7 linked regions of the Homo sapiens genome follow. The gene in region 1 interacts genetically with each later gene. Each region holds a gene or a part of one and is shown in the gene's direction. Other genes may lie near its edges.

Region 1 (2,746 bases):
AGTCCCAGTTATGCATTTCAAGTTTGGGGTTTGTTCTTTTCGTTAATGTTCCTCTGTGTTGTCAGCTGTCTTCATTTCCTGGGCTAAGCAGCATTGGGAGATGTGGACCAGAGATCCACTCCTTAAGAACCAGTGGCGAAAGACACTTTCTTTCTTCACTCTGAAGTAGCTGGTGGTACAAATGAGAACTTCAAGAGAGGATGTTATTTAGACTGAACCTCTGTTGCCAGAGATGCTGAAGATACAGACCTTGGACAGGTCAGAGGGTTTCATTTTTGGCCTTCATCTTAGATGACTGGTTGCGTCATTTGGAGAAGTGAGTGCTCCTTGATGGTGGAATGACCGGGTGGTGGGTACAGAACCATTGTCACAGGGATCCTGGCACAGAGAAGAGTTACGAGCAGCAGGGTGCAGGGCTTGGAAGGAATGTGGGCAAGGTTTTGAACTTGATTGTTCTTGAAGCTATCAGACCACATCGAGGCTCAGCAGTCATCCGTGGGCATTTGGTTTCAACAAAGAAACCTAACATCCTACTCTGGAAACTGATCTCGGAGTTAAGGCGAATTGTTCAAGAACACAAACTACATCGCACTCGTCAGTTGTCAGTTCTGGGGCATGACTTTAGCGTTTTGTTTCTGCGAGAACATAACGATCACTCATTTTTATGTCCCACGTGTGTGTGTCCGCATCTTTCTGGTCAACATTGTTTTAACTAGTCACTCATTAGCGTTTTCAATAGGGCTCTTAAGTCCAGTAGATTACGGGTAGTCAGTTGACGAAGATCTGGTTTACAAGAACTAATTAAATGTTTCATTGCATTTTTGTAAGAACAGAATAATTTTATAAAATGTTTGTAGTTTATAATTGCCGAAAATAATTTAAAGACACTTTTTTTTTCTCTGTGTGTGCAAATGTGTGTTTGTGATCCATTTTTTTTTTTTTTTTTTAGGACACCTGTTTACTAGCTAGCTTTACAATATGCCAAAAAAGGATTTCTCCCTGACCCCATCCGTGGTTCACCCTCTTTTCCCCCCATGCTTTTTGCCCTAGTTTATAACAAAGGAATGATGATGATTTAAAAAGTAGTTCTGTATCTTCAGTATCTTGGTCTTCCAGAACCCTCTGGTTGGGAAGGGGATCATTTTTTACTGGTCATTTCCCTTTGGAGTGTAGCTACTTTAACAGATGGAAAGAACCTCATTGGCCATGGAAACAGCCGAGGTGTTGGAGCCCAGCAGTGCATGGCACCGTTCGGCATCTGGCTTGATTGGTCTGGCTGCCGTCATTGTCAGCACAGTGCCATGGACATGGGAAGACTTGACTGCACAGCCAATGGTTTTCATGATGATTACAGCATACACAGTGATCACATAAACGATGACAGCTATGGGGCACACAGGCCATTTGCTTACATGCCTCGTATCATGACTGATTACTGCTTTGTTAGAACACAGAAGAGACCCTATTTTATTTAAGGCAGAACCCCGAAGATACGTATTTCCAATACAGAAAAGAATTTTTAATAAAAACTATAACATACACAAAAATTGGTTTTAAAGTTGACTCCACTTCCTCTAACTCCAGTGGATTGTTGGCCATGTCTCCCCAACTCCACAATATCTCTATCATGGGAAACACCTGGGGTTTTTGCGCTACATAGGAGAAAGATCTGGAAACTATTTGGGTTTTGTTTTCAACTTTTCATTTGGATGTTTGGCGTTGCACACACACATCCACCGGTGGAAGAGACGCCCGGTGAAAACACCTGTCTGCTTTCTAAGCCAGTGAGGTTGAGGTGAGAGGTTTGCCAGAGTTTGTCTACCTCTGGGTATCCCTTTGTCTGGGATAAAAAAAATCAAACCAGAAGGCGGGATGGAATGGATGCACCGCAAATAATGCATTTTCTGAGTTTTCTTGTTAAAAAAAAATTTTTTTAAGTAAGAAAAAAAAAGGTAATAACATGGCCAATTTGTTACATAAAATGACTTTCTGTGTATAAATTATTCCTAAAAAATCCTGTTTATATAAAAAATCAGTAGATGAAAAAAATTTCAAAATGTTTTTGTATATTCTGTTGTAAGAATTTATTCCTGTTATTGCGATATACTCTGGATTCTTTACATAATGGAAAAAAGAAACTGTCTATTTTGAATGGCTGAAGCTAAGGCAACGTTAGTTTCTCTTACTCTGCTTTTTTCTAGTAAAGTACTACATGGTTTAAGTTAAATAAAATAATTCTGTATGCATTTCTGTCTCTGGTTTGGTTTTGTCCCTCCTGGAAGCATCACTACACTTTGGTGGCAGGGAAGCTGAGCTATGTGGGGCACGTGTGTTCACGCATGTTGCCTGGAAGCGTTCTCCAGAAAAGCATTGCCTCTTCTCTGACAGCTGAGCTTTCTCAGCATGCAGATTGCCAGTAAAGACGACAGGGAAGCTATCTGTTTCTCCCTCCATTAAATCATCTGGAAAGAAATTTGAATACATAAATTACGAAACTCTGTACTGCAGTTCCGACTGATTTGTAGACTTTTTTCCTATACCTTCCACTAACAACAGTCAGGCCAAGGCAAGTCTGATCTGCATGACCCCAAGGCAGAGGACTTCAGTTCTTCACATTTCCCATGTGCTTTTTGGTCTTTCACAGCTGACATGCCCACCTCGGGGGGATGCTGGTGAGAACCCAGTGGGCCTCACGCAGAATGTGGGTCACTGGAGGAGCTCCAAAGTCCTAGTTACTTTCTAGCTG
Region 2 (3,500 bases), on another chromosome or scaffold:
TGTCTGATTCTCACAACCCAGCGTGAGCCGAAGGAGATGCAGAAGCCTCAGTGGTACAGGGTAAGGAGATGGCTCCATTCCCACCACTAGCAAAGCACATCTGCGTAGAGAATCACCTGGCCTAAAGGGCAGCCACAAGCCCTTGCCATGGAGCAAGAATCACGTTTTGGTTTGCTCTCAAATGAATTTTTTTTTTTTTTTTTTTGTGATGGAGTCTTGCTTTGTCGCCCAGGCTGGAGTGCAGTGGCGCAATCTCGGCTCACTGCAACCTCCGCCTCTTGGGTTCAAGCGATTTTCTCCCACCTTAGCCTCCCGAATAGCTAGGACTACAGGCGTGTGCCACCACGCCCAGCTAATTTTTGTAATAGAGACAGGGTTTTGCCATGTTGGCCAGGCTGGTCTCGAATTCCTGACCTCAGGTGATCCACCTGCCTTGGCCTCTCAAAGTGCTGGGATTACAGACATGAGCTACCGCGCCTGGCCTCCAATGAATTTTTTATGCTCAGTATGAATCAATAGTTACTTTATTGCATTTTATTAAAGCAAACATCTATTGATAGCCATACCATTATTCTATACATTATTTTATGTATGACTAAGAATGCAAATATGCCAATTAAACTGTGACTTGGTACCTCTTTCTTTTTTTTTTTTTTTTTTTTTTTTTTTGGAGATGGAGTCTTGTTCTGTCACCAAGCTGGAGTTTAGTGGTGTGATTTTGTCTCACTGTAGCCTCTGCCTCCTGGGTTCAAGTGATTCTCCTGCCTCAGCCTCCCGAGTAGCTGGGACTACAGGCATGTGCCATCACGCCCAGCCAATTTTTGTGTTTTTAGTAGAGACAGGGTTTCACCATATTGGCCAGGATGGTCTTGATCTCTTGACCTCATGATCCACCTGCCTTGACCTCCCAAAGTGCTGGGATTACAGGCATGAGCCACTGTGCCCGGCCAACTTTGTACCTTCTTCTTATTAATAATTAATTATAAGACATCTCAGCTGGATGCTCACGCCTGTAATCCCAACATTTTGGGAGGCCAAGGCAGGAGGATTGCTTGAGCTCAGGAGTTTGAGACCAGCCTGGGCAGCATGTGGGATCCCGTCTCTACAAAAAATAAAAAAATTAGCTGGGCCTGGTGTTACACGCCTGTGGTCCCAGCTATTTGGGAGGCTGAGGCGGGAGAATTGCTTGAGCCCAAGAGATCAAGGCTGCAGTGAGTCATGATCATGCCACTGCACTCCAGACTTGACAACAGAGTGAGACTCTGTCTCAAAAAAAAAAAAAAGACATCTCTTTTCAGAGATGTTAAAATACGGAAAAATAGGTGTCTCAAAATCAGTGAGATACAAATGATACTAATTTAGAAAGTGCCATTTCTCTCTGCTCTAGTATAATGAGGCCTGTGCTGATTACTGCTGCAGAGGGAACTTATCAGTGAGTCTTATATTAGAAAAAGAGCTCTGAACATGGGATTGGGAGATGCGGGTTCCAGTCTTGCCTTTGCTGTGTGATCTTGGACAAGTCACTTAAATTCTTTGAGCCTGTGTTTTTAGCTGTTAAATAGGGATGATGATGGTATCTTCCTCAAAGGCTTATTATGAGAATTGAAGCTGGGGCTGGGCGTGGTGGCTTACACCTGTAATCACAGCACTTTGGGAGGCTGAGATGGGTGGATCACTTGAGGTCAGGAGTTTGAGACCAGCCTGGTTAACATGGTGAAGCCCTGTCTCTACTAAAAATACAAAAATTAGCCAGGCGTGGTAGTGTGTGCCTGTAATCTCAGCTACTCAGGGGGCTGAGGCAGGAGAATCACTTGAACCCAGGAGGTGGAGGTTGTGGAGAGCCGAGATTGCGCCACTGCACTCCAGCCTGGGCAATAGAGCAAGACTCCATCTCAAAAAAAAAAAATTGAAGCTGAATTAAATAAAAGAGATTGATCAGTTAGTTTTGTTGATGACTGGCACTAGGCACTGAGCAGGCGTGGTAGCACCTCAGAACCCCCAGTGTAGATGGGATGGGCCTGTATTCTTTCTGGGTTTGTACTCTGTCTCTAATGAAGGCACCCTGTCTCTCTACATAGCACACATTTGAAGAAGCAGAGAAGGGATTTGATGAGACCTTGGCCAAAGAGAAGGGCATGAATCGGGATGATCGGATCCATGGAGCCTTGTTGATCCTTAACGAGCTGGTCCGAATCAGCAGCATGGAGGGAGAGGTGAGAAGCCACGGCAGAGGGGAGTCCAGGCTCCCCGTGTACCATTCTGTGAGCGAGGCAAGGCGAGATCCATGTCCTCATGGAGCTGACATTTTGTGGCAGGAAACATAATAAATAAGTAAATAAGATAATTTCAGATAGCAGCAAGTTCTATGAAGAAAGTCAAACCAGAATAGAATAGAGAGTGATGGGGAGGGGGTGAGTGGAGGGTCAAGGAAGGCCCTCCCTGAGGTGGTGTTATTTGACGGGGGTCCACATGACACGAAGGAGCTACCTTGCAGCAGGCCGGGGGACTGTGTTCCAGGCTGAGGCTTTGAGGTGGAAGAGTGTGAGACATTGATGAAACAGAAGAAAGGGAAGTATGGCTGGTGTACCGGGAGCAAGGGAGAGGGAAGGAGGGGCCAAATTAATAGGCCCACGGTTCACAGTAAACACGAGCTTTCACAGGGGTAAACATTGGAAGTATGCACACAGGCGAATAATGTGATGTCATGCGTTTCTAACAATCACTGACTGCTTATAGGAAAAAATGTGGGGAAAGGCAGGAATGAAAGCAGGGAGACCAATTAGGAGATGTGTTGGCTTGAGAAGGTGGATTTAAAAGTGCATGGATTTTATTAGGGAAACAGCCTTCAAGAGAATATGGGGAGGAAGCTGGGAGAAGCATCGGACCACAATGCACATCTGACCCTGAGTAAGCAAGAGGGTAAAATTCGGATAGAAGTGTTCTAGCCTACTCTGCAGGGCCACCGCGGGGTCCTCAAGCCAAAGTTGGCTGTCAGAGAGGTCTGTGTCTCCCAAGAGCAGGATAGCCTTAGCATCCCTACTGTGTTCTGTCATTGGCTGGGAGCAATGGGTGACGTTGGCACAAACTTAGTGATGGGTTTCAGAGCAGCAGCTGGGGCCCTTGGTTATGCGCCTTGTAGTTGGAGGTTGCATTCTCACGGCTGCCAGACGAAGCTATTACGGTAGTCTGGGTGAGTGACAGTGGTGGCTTTGACTAGGAGTGGTGGCACAGATACTGAGAAGTAGTTGATTCAGGATATATTTGGGAGGTAAAGCTCCATCTGTGAGACTGGCTGTAGAAAATGAGCTGTGAAATTTTACCCCGGGGATTCCTGCTTATAATAGACACAGTGCTTGTTAGATAATAGCCATGCCCAGATGTGGGAGCAGCGCATGCAGCAGTGTGCAGAAGCAGGAGGAGTCTGGCTTCAGATCCCCACCGCTCTGATGACTGTGCGACTCAGGCAAGTTACCTGTTTAGCCTCATTTTTCTCCCTTTGG
Region 3 (3,500 bases), on another chromosome or scaffold:
CTTAAGTACTGATGCCAGAGAGGTCTGCCTAAGCTCAGTGCTGTCATTTCACTCCCTGTTTGGAGCCATGAGTGGCCCCCTGTTGCCTTCAAGACTGAAGCCATCCCCATCCTTCCTCCCACCAACCTAGAGGCTTTGCTTCGTAAATGCTGGCCCTTTCCTTCATGGGCTCCACCCTCTGAGTGTGTCATGAACTCTTCCACTTCCTTGCCTTGGTTCGTATTGGGTCCTCTGCCCGAGGTCAGAGATTTGGACGAGCCCTTCTCCTCCATCTTCACAGTCTCCATTTACCATTAGATGCCAGGCCCAGACAGTTGATGAAAAATGTAAGAAACGGACCCAAGTATAAGAAAAAGCTAGATCTGTCCATTTTATTTCTAGTTTTTGGAAGAGATGTGGATACAGAGAAATATTACTCTACTATTGAAAAAAATATATATCAGTCTGATTATAAATGTCAACTCATACTAAGTCAATATCAGGGAAGCAGTGTGGAGAAGGATGTGGCAAACTGGAGATTGCTGTTTCCATAGAAAGAGGGCAGCTAATGCTTATCTCCAGACCATTGTTATGCAGTAATGTAGACTCCATTTCACCAGATTTAATTCTTAAGGAGAAACTGGAAACTTGTATTATTATTTGATTATTACTTTTGGCAGTTAATTTTAAAAATCACCGTTTAGGCCAAAACAACATGACATTTGTCTGGGCTACAAGGGACTCTTAGCGACTCTTAGCTTGCACTTACCTTTCTAATCTCAGGGCTTTTTACAAAGCCCTTCTCTGAATTCCCTGAAGATATGCTAGCTTGAAGGCTCACTGCATACTCTCAACTTCCCAGCCACTTCCCTGTTTCCCTCTTATACCAGTTAATACTTTGATGTTATTTTTTCAGTCCTATTTAATCTTTTAGACTGGAGGTTCCTTGAGGGTGGGGCCTAATTCTTGTTTTTATCTTCCCCATAGCAATTATCAAGTTATCTGCTCCCTTTGGCACCTAAGAAATATTAGTTGGGGTGATAACTGAATGGCTGTCCTTCTGCCTTCGTTACTGCTTTTGTGGATGTTATTTTCTTTGACCCCTATTCCACCCGTGTGCAGTGGAGAGGATGGGTGTTGTATTTTACAGAGGAAGGAATTAACTGAGACGCAACAGGATGATGGGAACTTCTCAAGGTCATGTGGCAAGGAAGTCAAGGAATTGGGGTTTGAACCCAAGTCGTCTCAGTTCCATTCCATTGTCCTCTACCCCCTGCCACCTCTCACCTTCTTCCCTTTCACCTTTTTCTGTAGCTGAACGGAAACCACCGCTCTTTAACATGAATGCGATGAGTGCCTTATACCACATTGCACAGAACGAATCCCCCGTGCTCCAGTCAGGACACTGGTGAGGACTGAGATTCCGAATCTGGGCCCAGGCGTTAGGCCATGGGGTATGGATGCCTGACTCATGCCTTCCCCACCCCTCTCCCACCCTCCTGTGACTTTCAGGTCTGAGTACTTCCGGAATTTTGTCGACTCCTGTCTTCAGAAAATCCCTCAAGACAGACCAACCTCAGAGGTTCTCCTGAAGGTGAGGGCCTGCTGGCCTAGCATTCTCCTGGAACTGTAGCTTGTTACAGCCACAAGAACCCCCAGGGAAATTAGTGGTTCCCAGTTCCTCCTCCACCAAGAGCTTCGTTGATGAATTCCCACCCCATCCCCAATGCCTAGTGGACTCTGTGTTTTACAAGATTTTGTCTACCAGACTGCCTTAATTTATTAAGTAATAAACTGTTTTCCCTTCTTTTATTAATCAAAGATTTATATAATTGCCAGCCAGAGCTTCTGGTCAGCATGTGATAACCAGGGTTGCCCCACTGATCTGATGTAATGCAAGCCAAAAGCCTGTGTAGCCTTATCATGGGTAAATGTATGATTTCCCTTAGGTGTTTTTTGAATTATCAAAAATGGAGGGGCCCCATTCCCTTCACAGACCCATGGGGGCCTGAGGAGCCGTAGTTGGAAACTTCAGATTATGTAGTTGGACCCACTTGTTTTATAATTGTAGGATACTGTATGAAGCCCAGAGGGGCCTCATGACATGTCCAAGGTCACATAGCCCTTTAGTAGAGGAGCTGGACGAGAATCCAGTTCTCCTGACTGTCCCTGCCTGTCAGCCATGCTTAGAGGAAGAAGAGTCTGTCTGGGGAGTAGGTACTGGGTGGTACAGAAAATTGTGAGAGAAGGGCTTGGGATAAGGCCAGCATCAACCCGTGGTGGGCGTGGGCCCCAGAAGAGTGCCTCAGGCCTGAGGGAATGCCAAGGGCTGTGGGTTGTGGGGGGAAGGGGAGTTGGCAGCAGACCTCAGTGCCCTCTTCCCCCAGCACCGCTTTGTGCTCCGGGAGCGGCCACCCACAGTCATCATGGACCTGATCCAGAGGACCAAGGATGCCGTGCGGGAGCTGGACAACCTGCAGTACCGCAAGATGAAGAAGATCCTGTTCCAAGAGGCACCCAACGGCCCTGGTGCCGAGGCCCCAGAGGAGGAAGAGGTGACCCAGCTTGCCCTAACACCCCTCTTTATACCCCATGTGTGCCTGCCCCCTGCAGTTGCTTGGCCCCTTCCCCAGCCCTACTCACACCACCATCTTCCCATGCTACCTCCATGCATATGCCCCAGGGCTTCCCCTTCCCTGTCCAGCAGCCTACGCCCTGTTCGCAGGAGGCCGAGCCCTACATGCACCGGGCCGGGACTCTGACCAGCCTCGAGAGTAGCCACTCAGTGCCCAGCATGTCCATCAGCGCCTCCAGCCAGAGCAGCTCCGTCAACAGCCTAGCAGATGCCTCAGACAACGAGGAAGAGGAGGAGGAGGAGGAGGAAGAGGAGGAGGAGGAAGAAGGCCCTGAAGCCCGGGAGATGGCCATGATGCAGGAGGGGGAGCACACAGTCACCTCTCACAGCTCCATTATCCACCGGCTGCCGGTACACAGCTCACCCTTGGGGGACCCGAGCCACCTGCTCTAGAACTGCCTGGGTCTTCGCCCTCCTTCCCTAAGTGCAGCACTCCTCTGAGTCTGATTGGCTGTCCTCAGGTAGCTCTCTTTGGACCCAGTGGCCTCTGAGCCTTGGGTGTTCCTTCTATCTCCCTCTAGGGCTCTGACAACCTATATGATGACCCCTACCAGCCAGAGATAACCCCCAGCCCTCTCCAGCCGCCTGCAGCCCCAGCTCCCACTTCCACCACCTCTTCCGCCCGCCGCCGGGCCTACTGCCGTAACCGAGACCACTTTGCCACCATCCGAACCGCCTCCCTGGTGAGTGTAGCCATCCTCACTCAGCCTGCTCGCTGTCTGTTTTTTAAGTCTTTTTAAGTCTAGAAATGATTTCCTCCCTGTGGCATGGGATTGAGTCTGGATTCTACCCTCATTTTCTGTTGCTGGCTCCTGCCTGCTCCCCTTAACCCTCCTGCTTCCCTCCTCTTCCCAGTGGACTGTTTTGGTCATATGGCCCAATCTGG
Region 4 (3,500 bases), on another chromosome or scaffold:
AATTCATTTTCAGATGCACAGTGGTTTTAGTTTTAAGTCTGGGTCAGGTGATGATGGCCGCTTGACAAAATGAAACAGAAGAAAAGCAAATTTTCCCAACTTGGCTAAAATTTTGTTTTCAAAGTTATATTTACAATAAGCAGCATTTGCTTATATCACATTACATATGTAATAACATCAACTGCCTTAGCACTGAATTCTTAATTTTTAAAATATCAAATTGCTTTACACTAACTGTTCAAACTAACTTGATTTTCCATTATGCTGCTTGTTTTTCTTTCGTTTTATCTAAGCTCTTCCTAAATTTATGCAGAAAATTGCAGTTTTTAAATTGAAATGTGGGTCTGTGGTTATTTTTTTAAAAGCAATGGATTGATGGGATATATGTACTTTTTTTTAGAACCAGTAACCAAAAAATGCCATTAAATGATGCATTTTTTTAAACTGATAAATCATTTTATTTCTATTTTCATTTGAACACATGTCCCAAAAACTAAAGAATCTGTTTTATTTTAGATAATAGTACATTATATTATAACTTAATCATTATATTTTTGCAAATGATTTTCATTTTCTTGGTGTTAGTGTTTAAAAAGCTCAGCCAGGCGCGGTGGCTCATGCCTGTAATCTCAGCACTTTGGGAGGCCGAGGCGAGCGGATCACGAGGTCAGGAGTTTGAGACCAGCCTGGCCAACATGGTGAAACCTCATCTCTATAAAAAATACAAAAATTAGCCAGGCATGGTGGCACTTGCCCGTAATCCCAGTTACTTGAGAGGCTGAGGCAGGAGAATCACTTGAACTCAGGAGGCAGAGGTTGCAGTGAGCTGAGATCGCACCACTGCACTCCTGCCTGGGTGACAGAGTGAAACTTCGTCTCAAAATAAATAAAAATACAAAAATTTAGCTGGGCATGGTGGCACTGCCTGTAGTCCCAGCTACTAGGGAGGCTGAGGCAGGAGAATCGCTTGAACCTGGGAGGTGGAGGTTGCAGTGAGAGGAGATCTTGCCACTGCATTCTACTCTGGGCAACAGAGCAAGACTCCATCTTGTGGGGGTTGGGGGAAGCTCATAGGCCAGGCACAGTGGCTCACACCTCTAATCCCAGCACTTTGGGAGGCCGAGGTGGGTGGATCACTTGAGGTCAGGAGTTCTAGACCAGCCTGGCCAACATGGTGAAACCCTGTCTCTACTAAAAATACAAAAATTAGCTCAGTATGATATTGCGCGCCTATAATCCCAGCTACTCGGGAGGCTGAGGCAGGAGAATCCCTTGAACCCGGGAGGCGGAGGTTGCAGTGTACCAAGATCACCCCACCACACTCCAGCCTGGGTGACAGAATGAGACTGTCTCAAAAAAATAAAAAGCTCTTAAGTGGCAAATTTTTCTGGTCATAGTTGATTTTATGTTATTTATGTGTAGTAAACATATTACTATGAAACTTTTGAAAAAAATTATTGAATACCCTTAGTGTATCATTTTTCATGTAGGTTTGTTTCAAAGATAAATCAAGTTAGTCTGTTATCCTTCAATTACATGAAGGAAAATAATAACCAAATAGCATAAAATAATGTTTAGCATAATTAGGGGAATTAATTTATCTAAATTTATCTAATTATCTAATTTATCTAATTATTAAAATTACCTACTGGCAAATATTGCTAAATAGCATCAGCTTTAAAATCTGTCACTGAGGCTACAAAATACCTTTTGCCTGATTTAAAAGCTCTACGATGGTGAAGTATAATCCACATATTCTTTTTTTAGCCCTCAATATACATTTAAAATGAACTAAGAAATCACTAATGACCACTCGCAAATTGCTTTAATTTAAAAAGTTAAATCCTTCAAGATTACAAAATAGATTATTCATAGTATTAGTGGTCACTACACTATCTAAATTGGCATTAATATGACAATCAAAGTTATACTGCCATATTATAATGAAGACTTAATTATCTTAACGTAATACTGAAATTATAGGAGCATAGGTATATTCATCATACTAAAGCACATTTTAATATTTTAATACCTAATGAAAAGAAAGAGTATTTGTAAATGAAATTCCAGTTAAGTATTTTGGGATGTTAAGACAAAATATAGTTATCCTCCATCCATTGTTTGACAAGGTATCAGTTGACTAACACTTGACTTTGCCCCTGTTAATTATGATAGGGTGAAGATTTCTTTTCTTGCATTAATTGTGGTAACTTTGATTTGCAGGCATGAACTAATCACATTTGTGGTTAATATTTTTTCTTCATATAGATAAGATATTTTTGTTGAGATAAATATTTTAAATGCCACCACACCTTGGTGGATATTTTTTTCATATCCTCAGACTGATGAAGTATTTCTGGAAGCCCAGATTCAGAATATGACAACCTCACCTATGTTTATGGAGAAGGTTTCACTGGAGCCATCTATTATGTACAATGTAACAGAATTAAATTCAGTCAGCCAAGCTGGAGAATGGTAAATATTAATTTATGAAGTCTTTATCCTTGTTTTGAAAGATACATGTTTTTCTAAACATCCATTGCTCTTCAGTGGGTTTTTTTTTAATAGACTTTTTTTAAAGAATTTGAGGTTCATAGAAAAATTCATCAGAAAGTAGAGTTTCCACATACCCTCTTCCACTCCTCACAGTTTCTCTTGTTATTTACGTCTTGTTTTTTATTTTATTTTTATTTTTATTTATTTATTTATTTATTTATTTTTTGAAAGAGTCCAGCTCTATGCAGTGGCATGATCTTGATCTAGGCTCACTGTAACCTCCACCTCCCAGGTTCAAGCAATTTTGGTGCATCAGCCTCCCAAGCTGCTGGGATTACAGGTGCATGCCACCACGCTTGGTTAATTTTTTTATTTTTAGTAGAGATGGGGTTTCACCATATTGGCCAGGCTGGTCTTCAGCTCCTGACCTCAAGCGATCTGCCCACCTTATCCTCCCAAAGTGCTGTCCTTACAGGCGTGAGCCACTGTGCCTGGCCTACATCTTGTTTTAATGTGGTACATTTACTACAATTGATGAAATGATATTGACACTGATTACTAACTAATGTCTATAATTTACATTAGAATTCACACTTTTTGTTGTATGTTTTATTGTTTTTGGTTTTTGGTTTGTTTTGTTTTAAGAGACAGGTCTCATTAATGTTGCCCAGGCTGAAGTCAAATTTCTGGACTCAAACGATCTCCCAAGTATCTGGGACTATAGTCAAGCACTGTAGGTTTTGACAAATATATAACATGTATCCACCATTACTATATTATGCAAAATAGTTTCACTTTCCAAAAACTCTCCTGTGCTCCATCTTCATCCCTCCATTACATAAAAATAAAGATCCTAGCCCTTTTAATTTCATGTTTTACTATTCAAAGCATTTGGTCTTTTAAGTCTCATAAAAATCCAGTGAGGTAAATATGAATCCTATCATTGCTATCCTGCAAATAATAAAATGGAGGAATGTGAAGGAATGGTAGAGAAGTTAAAAAGA
Region 5 (4,103 bases), on another chromosome or scaffold:
GAGAATCACTTGAACCCAGGAGACGGAGGCTTCAGTGAGCCGAGCTTGCACCACTGTACTCCAGCCTGGGTGACAGAGTAAGACTCTGTCTCCAAAATAAATAAATAAATAAATAAATAATATAAATAATAAATGTCCAGGAATCAGAGCTCAAACTCAGATCCTTAGTCTTAAACTCCAGTCCCTTTTCTTCCTAACTCCAAGACCTTGGAGTAAGATCTTGTGGCTGTAGGTATGGCTGATGCCCTGAAGAGTTGAAGTTGGCAGGGAAGGTGCCCAGAAAATTTTGGATTGAAGATTTCATGGCAAGTCTCTGGCCAGTGGCCTAGCCCGGGTAAGCCATGCTATGCTCACCTCCCCACAGCCCCCTCTCGCCTTTTTTTTTTTTTTTTTTTTTACCTTGACTGGAAGCACAAGCAGAAACTGGGACATGAGCACCAGGAGACCAGATTTCCATGGTCCCGTTGGGGGCATGGGGTTGGGGAGAGGTTGCAGAGGAGGGCTCTGGAGGGGAGCAACTGTCACAGCTGTGAGAGGTGGGGGTGAGCAGGCAGTCAGGGCTGTTCCCTCCAGAATCCTGGGGTGTCCTCTGCACTTCTGCGCCAAGCTGGAGTGCTAGTGTGATGGACAAGGTGGTAAGAGAGCTGAAAGAGCACGAGCATAACAAGAAAGACAGAGGCAGAAGCAAAAAAAAAAAAAAAAAAAAAACAGAGGGCAACAGAGAGACAGTTACAGAGACTACAGTGATCCACAGAGGGAGAGCCATCCCTGTGAATTAGCCATCATTTCCCTGTAAACCTTAGAACCCAGCTGTTGCCAGGGCAACGGGGCAATACCTGTCTCTCTAGAGATGAAGTTGCCAGGGTAACTGCATCCTGTCATTCGTTCCTGGGGACCATCCGGAATGCGGCACCCACTGGCTGTTACCATGGCAACTGCCTTTTTGCCCCACTTAATCCCATCCCGTCTGCTACAAGGGCCCCACAGTTGGAGGTGGGGGAGGTGGGAAGAGAAAAGATCACTTGTGGACAAAGTTTGCTCTATTCCACCTCCTCCAGGCCCTCCTTGGGTCCATCACCCCAGGGGTGCTGGGTCCATCCCACCCCCAGGCCCACACAGGCTTGCAGTATTGTGTGCGGTATGGTCAGGGCGTCCGAGAGCAGGTTTCGCAGTGGAAGGCAGGCAGGTGTTGGGGAGGCAGTTACCGGGGCAACGGGAACAGGGCGTTTTGGAGGTGGTTGCCATGGGGACCTGGATGCTGACGAAGGCTCGCGAGGCTGTGAGCAGCCACAGTGCCCTGCTCAGAAGCCCCGGGCTCGTCAGTCAAACCGGTTCTCTGTTTGCACTCGGCAGCACGGGCAGGCAAGTGGTCCCTAGGTTCGGGAGCAGAGCAGCAGCGCCTCAGTCCTGGTCCCCCAGTCCCAAGCCTCACCTGCCTGCCCAGCGCCAGGATGGCCACCATCACCTGCACCCGCTTCACGGAAGAGTACCAGCTCTTCGAGGAATTGGGCAAGTGAGTTGTGCCTCAGGAAGTCCTGGAAGGCATGGGGGGCGGGGAGGTCAGGGTCTCTAGTGGGGTGTGTGTGCCTGCAGTGCTTGGGGAGCATTCCTTGTACACAGATGAAGGCAGGCTGCATGGGTTTGGGGGCACCTGCCTGTGTACAGAGTGTCCAGAGTCGGGCGTGGGTATGTTTGTGGGTGCACAGATGTGCCAAGCTAGCCAGGCCAGTGTGTATGTAGGGATGAAGGGTTGACAGTGTATGCCAGTGCACACACATACACACAAAATGCACACAAGTACACACAACCTGGATACACACAGATTCTTAGAGACTTAGGGTTAAAAAGGGATTTTCCTAGTCAGCTGGGTCCAAAGCTGGAATTCCTTCTCTAGTTTTGCTTGAGGTGGCCATCCGCCCTCCACTTAGATACCTCCAGTGACAGAGAATTCACCAGCTCCCGGTAGTTCTTCCTGACTTTAGACACCCACAGTGACTGTACAGAGTGGCCAACTTCTCCCTCCCTACCTCCCCTTTCTCAGCTCCTGCCAGGAGTGAGGGCGTCAGTACAGTAGGGGTTAATATCTGAGCATGACAGGCTTCCCGGGTGTTGGGAGGTGGGGAGAGGAAATCAGGAAAGCTGTAGCGGGGAGCACCGCTGTTTCAGGGGCTAGGGTATGAAGGGTGCAGTGGCTCTGGACAAGCAAAGTTGCCCAGCCCAGAGCTCATTTTCTGCCCTGATGACTGCTGTGTAGAGAAGGATGGGAGGATGAGGAAAGAGGGGAGGCCCTTGTGGGTGGCCCAGTAGGGTGTGGAGTGTCAGGGAGGGATTCCTGGATGTCCCCAGCTGGGTTTCTGGAGGATCCTGGGATGGGTCAAGGGTTGGGTGCATTTTGGAGGCAGAGTTTGCCTTGTGGGCAAAGGAGCACCGATGCCCTGGTTGGTTTCTGCTGAGGCAGCAGGAGCACGGGGGGAGGGGCCCTGGAGGCAGGTGTGTATTGGTGTGAGTTCTGAATGTGTGTGTACTAGTGTGCATTTTGAGGAGTGATGTGTGTGGCTGTAGAAGGGCTTTTGAGGGAAATTGCTTGTGACACTGGGGTACGCTGGTGTGCCCTGCCAGGGTGTGCAAGCATTCATGCATGTGCACCAGGAAGAGGTGCTTCGTGTGTAAGGCCTGAAAATGCAAGTGTGCCTTGCAAGGGTGCATGTGTGTGAGTATTACAAGAGTGCTGTTGGCTGGGTTGAATGAGAACAAGGGTGTAAACATGACTCATTAAATGTGCACATGTATGGCAGGTTAGAGCTGTGTGCACATAGGAAGGCACATGTGTGTGAGGTCTAGGGGTGTGTGAGGATGCTCATATGAGATGCGGACACAATGGTGTTCCTGTGAGGTCTTGATATGCACATCTACGTGAAGACTGGGGTCATGCACACAGGATGATGTACGTGTGTGTGCACACGCATGTGTGTGCATGTGTGAGGCCTGGGCTCACAGGGTTATGTGGGAGTATGGGTGTTATAGGCATGTGTGAGCTCATGCTGGTGTCTGCATATGTGTGGGAGGTGGCCCTGTGACTGTATACAGGAAGGCTGCTTGCACACACACACACACACACACACACACACACACACACACAGAGGCTATCCTACAGGCATGCACCACCTCCCTTGAGCACATATACCCCCATGTGTACGTGTGTTCACTCTTATCTGCAGACTTTCAGCTTTTCTGAATGTGCTTTTTTTGCGGGTAGGGGCAGGAACAAAATGTTTGGGGCTGCTCTGGAGGACTGAGGCTGTCTACAAACTTGTGCAGGGACCCCTCTCCAGGTGTTTTCCAGTGCTCGCCTAGAACCCAAGAATTCCCTGATTAGCCATGAAGCTGCCTTTCAGGGAGTGACCAAGACTGGGTCCTGGCAGGACTGCGTCATGAGTACAGTGAGATGGAGTTGAGATGTGACTCAAGTGCTCAAAGTGAAAATAAAAGTGATGTTTTGCCCCAAGAGGAGATGGATATCATTAAGACTGGGTTTTGTGGGGGCAACTTGGTAGAGAGACCCTTCGTGAGCCTTCACAGAGAATTTCAGGGGCAAGGGAGCCCTGGTGTGGCCATGGCAGGAAAACCGAGGGTAGCAGGCATAGCTAGGCCTTGTTTAATCAATTTCAGACTTCTTCCTTCCAGAACCATCAGACTGCTCTTAACCTTTTTTAGGTCACATATTCCTTCAGGAATCTGATGAAAGTCTAAATCTACGTTCCCCAGAAAAACGCACAAACCTACGAAATGTTGCATGCAATGTCAGGAGCTTGCAGGGACATCGGGAAGACTGTGTATGAGCCTAAGTTTGCAGAAGCTTGTGTTAGAGACAAGGGGATAAAGTGGACTGATTCCGCACCCCTGATGTCTGTGTTAAAAAGTCCAGACCACATCATTGAGGAGCCTGGGGCTCCTGCTCTCCACAGCAGCTTCAGTCTGAGCATCCAGTGGTGCAGGGAGGGGCAGTGCCCTGCGTAGCCACTAGGGACACAGGCGCTGTCCCTCATCACCCATAGCTCTGTGACACCAGGCAGGCTATGCTACCTCTTTACCCCCACCTGTAG
Region 6 (3,500 bases), on another chromosome or scaffold:
TCTTGCTCTGTTGCCCAAGCTGGAGTACAGTGGCGTGATCTCGGCCTATGACAACCTCCGTCTCCCGGCTTCAAGCGATTCTCCTGCTCAGCCTCCGGAGTAGCTAGGACTACAGCTGCGCAGCACCATGCCCGGCTAATTTTTGTATTTTTAGTAGAGACAGGGAGTCCTGACCTCGTGATCCACCCACCTCGGCCTCCCAAAATGTTGGGATTACAGGCATGAGCCACCGCGCCCGGCCTGTTTTTGTTTTTCGTGGATATACAGTAGTCCCCCCTTATCCTTGCGGGATACATTCCAAGATCTCCAGTGGATACCTGAAACCCTGTATAGTAGTGAATATAATTGTCATCAGTCAGAACACGTTTCTGTCCGTGTCTTCCACACACAAATTTAATGCCTTTTCCATCTTAACTAATCACTTGTCATGCACTGTGGCTGTGATGTTTGCAGTTTGAGGTACAACAGCAAAACTATCACGAATTTTTTTCCTTCACAATTTCATGTATAGATTTGATCTTTGTAACCTCCGCATACAATTTTTTTTCATTCCTTATTAAGTCAAGAACTTTCACCTTCAAGCAATTTACAGCTTCTCTTTGGCATATCCATATAGCTGTCATTGCTACTTTTGGACTTAGGGACTGTCATTAAGTAAAATAAGGGTTACTTAAAACTCAAGCATTGCCCTGCCCCATAGTCAGTCTGACAATCTGATAACTGAGATGGCTACTAAGTGACAAATGGCTGGTAGTTTATACAGGTGAATACATTAGACGGAGGGGAGATTCACTACCCGGTCAGGTGAGATTTCATCAGGCTACTCAGAATGGCGCACAGTTTAAAACATTGTTGTGGCTCACGCCTGTAATCCTGGCACTTTGGGAGATTGAGGCAGGAGGATTGCTTGAGGCCAGGCATTCAAGACCAGCCTGGGCAATGTAGTGGGACCCCCCATCCCCCCACCATCTCTAGAAAAAAAATTTAAAAAGTCAGCAAGGCATGGTGGCATGCATCTGTAGTCCTAGCTTCTTGGGAGGCTTAAGGTGTGAGGATCTCTTGAGCCCAGGAGTTTTGAGGTTACAGTGAGCTATGATGACACCACTGTACACTCCAGCCTAGGTGACATAGCAAGACTCTGTTTCTAAAACAACAAAAATTAGTGTTTATTTCTGCAGTTTTCTTTGTAATATTTTTGTACCACAGGTGTTTGAAATGGCAGAAAATGAAACGGGGTAAGGATGAACTCCTGTATAGATAGACTGGATAAAGAGAAAGCCAAGTGCATGATGTTCATAGAGGAGTCTTAAGAGTAAGCCTTATGTCATCTATCCAAATGTTGTTTTCTAGGAGTATAAGAATATAGGAACAGAGCTTAAAATGGAAAAATACTGTACAGTTAGCCTTCCGTATCTGAGGGTTCCGTGTTTGTGGAGTCAGCCACAGATTGAAAATATTTAGGGGAAAAAAATCCATGGTTGCATCTGTACTGGACATGTACAGACTTTATTTTCTTGTCATTATTCCCTAAACAATACAGTGCACCAACTATTTATGTTGCATTTACACTGCATTAGGTATTGTAAATAATCCAGAAAGAATTCAAAGTATATGGGTGGGTGTGTGTAGGTTATATGCAAATACTACATGTCCCCTTTATATCAGGGACTGGAGCATCCTCAGATTTTGGTATCTGCAGTGGAGGGAGTGGATTCTGGAACCAATTCCCAGCAGATACCAAGGGACAACCATATATATATAGTATCATGACATCTTGTATCATGTCACGTATATATATATCATATATATTATCATGTCACGTATACAAGACATCTTATATATCCTATCATGTAAGATGTCTTGTATACGTAAGTAATAGAAATGAAAATCAGCAGATAGTTAAGGCATAATGAGAAAATGGAAAACATTGTTCTTGTTAGAAATGTTTAAGAATGGCTTCTTGATAAAGAACTGTGTTAAGCATATTCTTTCTTCTTTTTAGACACAGAGTCTCACTCTGTTTCCTAGACAGGAGTGCAGTGGTGCAATCCTGGCTCACTGTAGCCTCCATCTCCTGGGTTCAAGCTATTCTCCTGCCTCAACCTCCCAAGTAGCTGGGATTACAGGCACCTGCTACCATGCCTGGCTAATGTTTGTATTTTTAGTAGAGATAGGGTTTCACCGTGTTGGCCAGGCTGGTCTCGAACTCCTGACCTCAGTCTGCCCACCTCGGCCTCCCAAAGTGCTGGTATTAGAGGCGAGAGCCACAGTGCCTGGCCAATTAAGCATAATTTTTTCTATTTTTCATTTTCTTACATGGATCTTTTTTTTTTTTTTTGAGACGGAGTCTAGCTCTGTCACCCAGGCTAGAGTGCAGTGACACGATCTCGGCTCACTGCCAGCTCCGCCTCCTGGGTTCATGCCATTCTCCTGCCTCAGCCTCCCTAGTGGCTGGGACTACAGGCACCCGCCACCATGCCCGGCTAATTTTTTGTATTTTTAGTAGAGATGGGGTTTCACCATGTTAGGCAGGATGGTCTCGATCTGCTGACTTCATAATCTACCCTTCTCGGCCTCCCAAAGTGCTGGGATTACAGGGGTAAGCCACCGTGCCCAGCCACCTGGGTCTTAAAGAATAAATTTTCTTGAGATGGAGTCTTGCTGTGTTGCCCAGGCTGAAGTTATCCTCCTGCTTCGGCCTCCTGAGTAGCTGGGATTGCAGATGTGAGCCACTATGCCTGCCTCTAAGAAACTTTCTTATAAAGGAGGAAGAAGAAAAGTAGCAGTGCAGTGCTCCAAAGAATTTTTTTACAACACTTAAGGAAGAACTACCTTTAACTTGTAGCACTAGAGACTCTGTTTCAAAGAATGCACAAGAATACTTACCCTTATTACTTGTAATATACTCTCATATTTTCTGTTGCTTTTTTTTCTTTTCTTTTTTTTTTTTTTTTTAGTACTGGTTGCAGCCTACTATATTGATTTTTATGACCCACTGTTGGCTTTTGAGCCATAATTTGAAGAATACTGGCGTAGAAGAGTTGACAAGATGGCAGTTATTCTGTATTAGGCCAACATTTTCTGTATGCCAGGAACTTATCCTCTGTACATTGTTCCTTCTTTCCTTCCTGGAGTTTATAGATAAGGGAAGAAGACTGGCATTCACGGAGTCTGGTGTGATCAGCATTGTATTTGGGAAGTACGTATATAGTGGGAGGAACAGGAGAACCTAACCCAGTAGTTATCCTGGTGGCTGTCTTTGAGGAATTGTGTCTGATTTTGGGATCTCACAGATAGAGATAGGATTAGTAAAAATGAGCCCAGGCTAGAAAGGAGACTGTGTGAGGCCAGGTATATCCTGTTCTGGGAACCTGTGAGTGCTGTCTGACTGGTAGAATAGCCAAAAACTTGACTGTAGAGGTGAGCAAGGGGGCCAATCATGGAGGGCTTATAATACAGGAATTTAGACTTTCCATTTTACCCATTTAATGGATGGGGCA
Region 7 (3,500 bases), on another chromosome or scaffold:
ACTGGAAGAAGGGAGTGAGAGACATGGGAAAAAGAATAGTACAGTATTAAGGAGATTAGAAGGAAAAGAGTACTTTAAGATTACTGTCCTAAGGGACAATGAAATTGATGGTGCCATAAAATGGAGAAGTCATTTTGGGAAGGATGATAATGAGTTCAGCTTTGCACCTTGAATTTCACGTGATTATATAAATGTGTAAAAGGTGGCAGCAAATACTGGAATGGAGGTTTTAGTTGCCCTGAATTTCTAGTCTGATTGTTCTGTGTGTAAGATGTTGAGAAAAGGGATATAAATGGAAAAAGAGCTGAAGATTTGAATGTATGAAAATAGATAAGATGATGAGGGTGTATATCATAGGGTAGGAATCAATAAGAAGAAAGGAGTCAATAGAAGAGAAGAGAGAAAATTGTGATCTCTTAAGCTAAAACAGTTTGGATATTTGTCCCCACCCAAATCTCATGTTGAATTGTAATCCCCAATGCTGGAGGTGGGGCTTGGTGGGAGGTGTTTGGGCCATGGGAATGGATCCCTGATGGCTTGGTGTTGTTTTTGCAATAGTGAGTTCTGGCAAGATCTGGTTGTTTAAAAGTGTGCACCTACCCTCTTACTCTTTCTCACTCCTACTTTGCCATGTGAGATGCCTACTCCTGCTTCACCTTCCATCTTGAGCAGAAACACCCTGAGGCCTCCCGAGAAGCAGATGCTGGCACCATGCTTCCTGTACAGCCTACAGAACCAATAGCCAATTAAACCTCTTTTAAATTACCCAGGCTCAGATGCTTCTTTATAGCAGTGCAAGAACAGCCTATTACAGAAAATTGGTAAGTGGGCGTGGAGCATTGCTCTAAAGATACCTGAAAATATGGAAGCAGCTTTGAAACTGGGTAACAGGCAGAGGTTGGAAGAGTTTGGAGGACTCAGAAGACAGGAAAATGAGGGAAAGTTTGGAACTTCTTAGAGACTGGTTGAATGGTTGTGACCAAAATGCTGGTAGTGATACGGACAATGAAGTCCATGATGATGAGGTCTCAGGTGGAAATGAAGAACTTAGTAGGAACTGGAGCAAAGGTCACCCTCATTATGCTTTAGCAAAGCACTTGGTTGCATTCTGTTCATTCTGTAGGGACCTGTGGAAGTTTGAACTTGAGAGTGATGACCTCTGGTATCTGGCGGAAGAAATGTCTAAGCAGCAAAGTGTTCAAGATGTGTCCTGGATGCTGCTAACAGCCCATGCTAAGATGTAGGAGCAAAGAAATGACTTAAAGTTGGAATTTGTTTTTAAACAGGAAGCACTGCATAAAGGTTTGGGAAATTTGCAGCCTAGCCATGTGGCAAAGAAAGAAAAAGCTTTTTCAGGGGAGGAATTCAAGCAGGCTATAGAGCAACCACGTGCTAGAGATATTTGCATAATTAAACACATGCCAAAGTGCTGATATCCGTGAAGTTGGAGAAAAGGCCTTCAAGGCATTTTAGAAACCTTCACAGCAGCCCCTCTCATCATAGGCCCAGAGGCCTAGGAAGAAAGAATGGTTTTGTGGGCCTGGGCTAGCCGGGCCTTGCTGCCTTGCACAGCCTCAAGACACTGCTCCCTGCATCCCAGCCACTCAGGCTTCCAGCCTTGTTCAAAGGGGCCCAGGTACAGTTCGGGCTGCTGCTTCAAAGGGTGCAAGCCATAAGACTTGATGGCTTACATGTATTATTAAGCCTGCAGGTGCCCAGAGTGCAAGAACTGAGGCTTGGGAGCCTCTGCCTAGATTTCAGAGGATGTATGAGAAAGCCTGGGTGTCTAGGCAGAAGCCTGCTGCAGGGGTGGAGCCCTCATTGAGGATCTCTATTAGGGTGGGGCCAAGGGGAAATGTGGGGTTGGAGCCCCCCAGAGTCCCCAGTGGGGCACTGCCTAGTGGAGCTGTGAGAAGGGGCCTACCATCCTCCAGACCACAGAATGGTAGATCCACTGGCAGTTTGCATCCTATACCTGGAGAAGCCACAGGCATTCAACTAAAACCTGTGAGAGCATTCCTGGGGGCTAAACCCTGCAAAGCCACAGGGCAGAGTTGCCCAAAGCCTTGGGAGCCCACCCTTTGCAGCAGTGTGCCTTGAATGTGGAACATAGAGTCAAAGGAGATTATTTTGGAGCTTTAAGATTTAATGACTGCCCTGCTGGGTTTTGAACTTGCATGGGGCCTGTAGCCCCTTTCTTTTGGTTGATTTCTCCTTTTTGAAATGGCAATGTTTATCCAATGCCTATATCCTCATTGTATCTTGGGAGTAAATAACTTATTTGTGACTTTACAGCCTCATAAGTGGAAGGGACTTGCCTTGTTTCAGATGAGACTTTGGACTTCAGAGTTAATGCTGGAATGAGTTAAGACTTTGGGAGACTGTTGGGAAGGCATGAGTTTATTTTGCAGTGTGAGAAGGACATGAGATTTGGGAGGGGCCGTGGGCAGAATGATACAGTTTGGATATTTGTCCCCACCCGAATCTCATGTTGAATTGTAATCTCCAATGCTGGAGATGGGGCATGGTGGGAGGTGTTTGGGTCATGGGAGTGGATCCCTCATGGCTTGGTGCTGTCTTCGTGATAGTAGGTTTTCACAACATCTGGTTATTTAAAAGCCTGTGGCTCCTTCCCCCCAGCTCCCTCTTGCTCCCGCTCTGCCATGTGAGATGCCTGCACACGCTTCGTCTTTGCTATGAGTAAAAGCTTCCTGAAGCCATCCCAGAAGCAAGTGCTGGTGCCCTGCTTCCTGTATAGGCTGCAGAAATGATAGCCAATTAAACCTCTTTTCTTATAAATTACCCAGTCTTAGGTGTTTCTTTGTAACAATGCAAGAATGGCCTGATACATAAGCCAGGAGAAGAGTTTTGAATTGAAGGGGCTGCTAGACTGTTGCATTGAAGTTGAAGTCCAGAGAACGAGGTTCTGCTTTAATCTGAGGAAGATATGGCATGCTATTTAACCTCTCTGGCTTCAATTTCCTCACCTCTAAAATGCATACTACTTTATACTTGCAGCACTTTAGCCTCCTACCTTTGTAATTCTCACATATCACTACAGACCTGGAATATTGAAAAGGTTAAAAAGAAAGCATTTGTAGCCTTGTTAAATCACTGTGAGTAGTAGTCCCACAAACAATAATGAATACATGTAGGAGTGGTGGTATTTCATAGCACTTTAAATTTAAATTACAGTCAACTCTCAATTTCCTTTTAAGTGATCCACCTGCAGTGACTTGCTGCCTCCTCCCGCTCCCAGGTCTCAGGCTACCAAGAATAAGACTGCGAAAAGCACAGTGGGGTGAGCGAATGATTTGCTTGCCTGTGTATCTGTGCCTCTGTCACCAAGCTATTAAATACAGTCCATTCTCAATTACCTGCCTTAAAAAGATGAATAATGGTAGAAGAATGCTAAATATATAATCTAAATACTTTATATTGGTGAGAAAATATTTTATGTTCTTTTCTCTCCCACAATAGATTGATGTATATTTTCTTTT

The links.
Region 2: changes in IGF1R (region 1) and MTOR together harm fitness more than expected from each alone (negative genetic interaction), as found in Homo sapiens cells (one large-scale study listed by BioGRID).
Region 3: changes in IGF1R (region 1) and TAOK2 together harm fitness more than expected from each alone (negative genetic interaction), as found in Homo sapiens cells (one large-scale study listed by BioGRID).
Region 4: changes in IGF1R (region 1) and TRAPPC13 together harm fitness more than expected from each alone (negative genetic interaction), as found in Homo sapiens cells (one large-scale study listed by BioGRID).
Region 5: changes in IGF1R (region 1) and CAMK2A together harm fitness less than expected from each alone (positive genetic interaction), as found in Homo sapiens cells (one large-scale study listed by BioGRID).
Region 6: changes in IGF1R (region 1) and EP300 together harm fitness less than expected from each alone (positive genetic interaction), as found in Homo sapiens cells (one large-scale study listed by BioGRID).
Region 7: changes in IGF1R (region 1) and RICTOR together harm fitness less than expected from each alone (positive genetic interaction), as found in Homo sapiens cells (one large-scale study listed by BioGRID).

The regions. Positions count from the first base shown.
Region 1 is NC_000015.10:98,962,285-98,965,030, forward strand, and holds the end of IGF1R (insulin-like growth factor 1 receptor isoform 1 precursor), read left to right. Parts: 3' UTR 1-2,246; downstream 2,247-2,746. UniProt on the Homo sapiens protein: Receptor tyrosine kinase which mediates actions of insulin-like growth factor 1 (IGF1). Binds IGF1 with high affinity and IGF2 and insulin (INS) with a lower affinity. The activated IGF1R is involved in cell growth and survival control.
Region 2 is NC_000001.11:11,252,552-11,256,051, reverse strand, and holds part of MTOR (serine/threonine-protein kinase mTOR), read left to right. Parts: coding exon 1-60; intron 61-2,078; coding exon 2,079-2,213; intron 2,214-3,500. UniProt on the Homo sapiens protein: Serine/threonine protein kinase which is a central regulator of cellular metabolism, growth and survival in response to hormones, growth factors, nutrients, energy and stress signals.
Region 3 is NC_000016.10:29,980,368-29,983,867, forward strand, and holds part of TAOK2 (serine/threonine-protein kinase TAO2), read left to right. Parts: intron 1-1,293; coding exon 1,294-1,387; intron 1,388-1,491; coding exon 1,492-1,573; intron 1,574-2,366; coding exon 2,367-2,534; intron 2,535-2,683; coding exon of another isoform or gene 2,684-2,704; coding exon 2,705-2,965; intron 2,966-3,135; coding exon 3,136-3,297; intron 3,298-3,500. UniProt on the Homo sapiens protein: Serine/threonine-protein kinase involved in different processes such as membrane blebbing and apoptotic bodies formation DNA damage response and MAPK14/p38 MAPK stress-activated MAPK cascade.
Region 4 is NC_000005.10:65,656,027-65,659,526, forward strand, and holds part of TRAPPC13 (trafficking protein particle complex subunit 13), read left to right. Parts: intron 1-2,341; coding exon 2,342-2,475; intron 2,476-3,500.
Region 5 is NC_000005.10:150,286,974-150,291,076, reverse strand, and holds the start of CAMK2A (calcium/calmodulin-dependent protein kinase type II subunit alpha), read left to right. Parts: upstream 1-1,303; 5' UTR 1,304-1,451; coding exon 1,452-1,513; intron 1,514-4,103. UniProt on the Homo sapiens protein: Calcium/calmodulin-dependent protein kinase that functions autonomously after Ca(2+)/calmodulin-binding and autophosphorylation, and is involved in various processes, such as synaptic plasticity, neurotransmitter release and long-term potentiation.
Region 6 is NC_000022.11:41,099,092-41,102,591, forward strand, and holds part of EP300 (histone acetyltransferase p300), read left to right. Parts: intron 1-3,500. UniProt on the Homo sapiens protein: Functions as a histone acetyltransferase and regulates transcription via chromatin remodeling. Acetylates all four core histones in nucleosomes. Histone acetylation gives an epigenetic tag for transcriptional activation.
Region 7 is NC_000005.10:39,064,400-39,067,899, reverse strand, and holds part of RICTOR (rapamycin-insensitive companion of mTOR), read left to right. Parts: intron 1-3,500. UniProt on the Homo sapiens protein: Component of the mechanistic target of rapamycin complex 2 (mTORC2), which transduces signals from growth factors to pathways involved in proliferation, cytoskeletal organization, lipogenesis and anabolic output.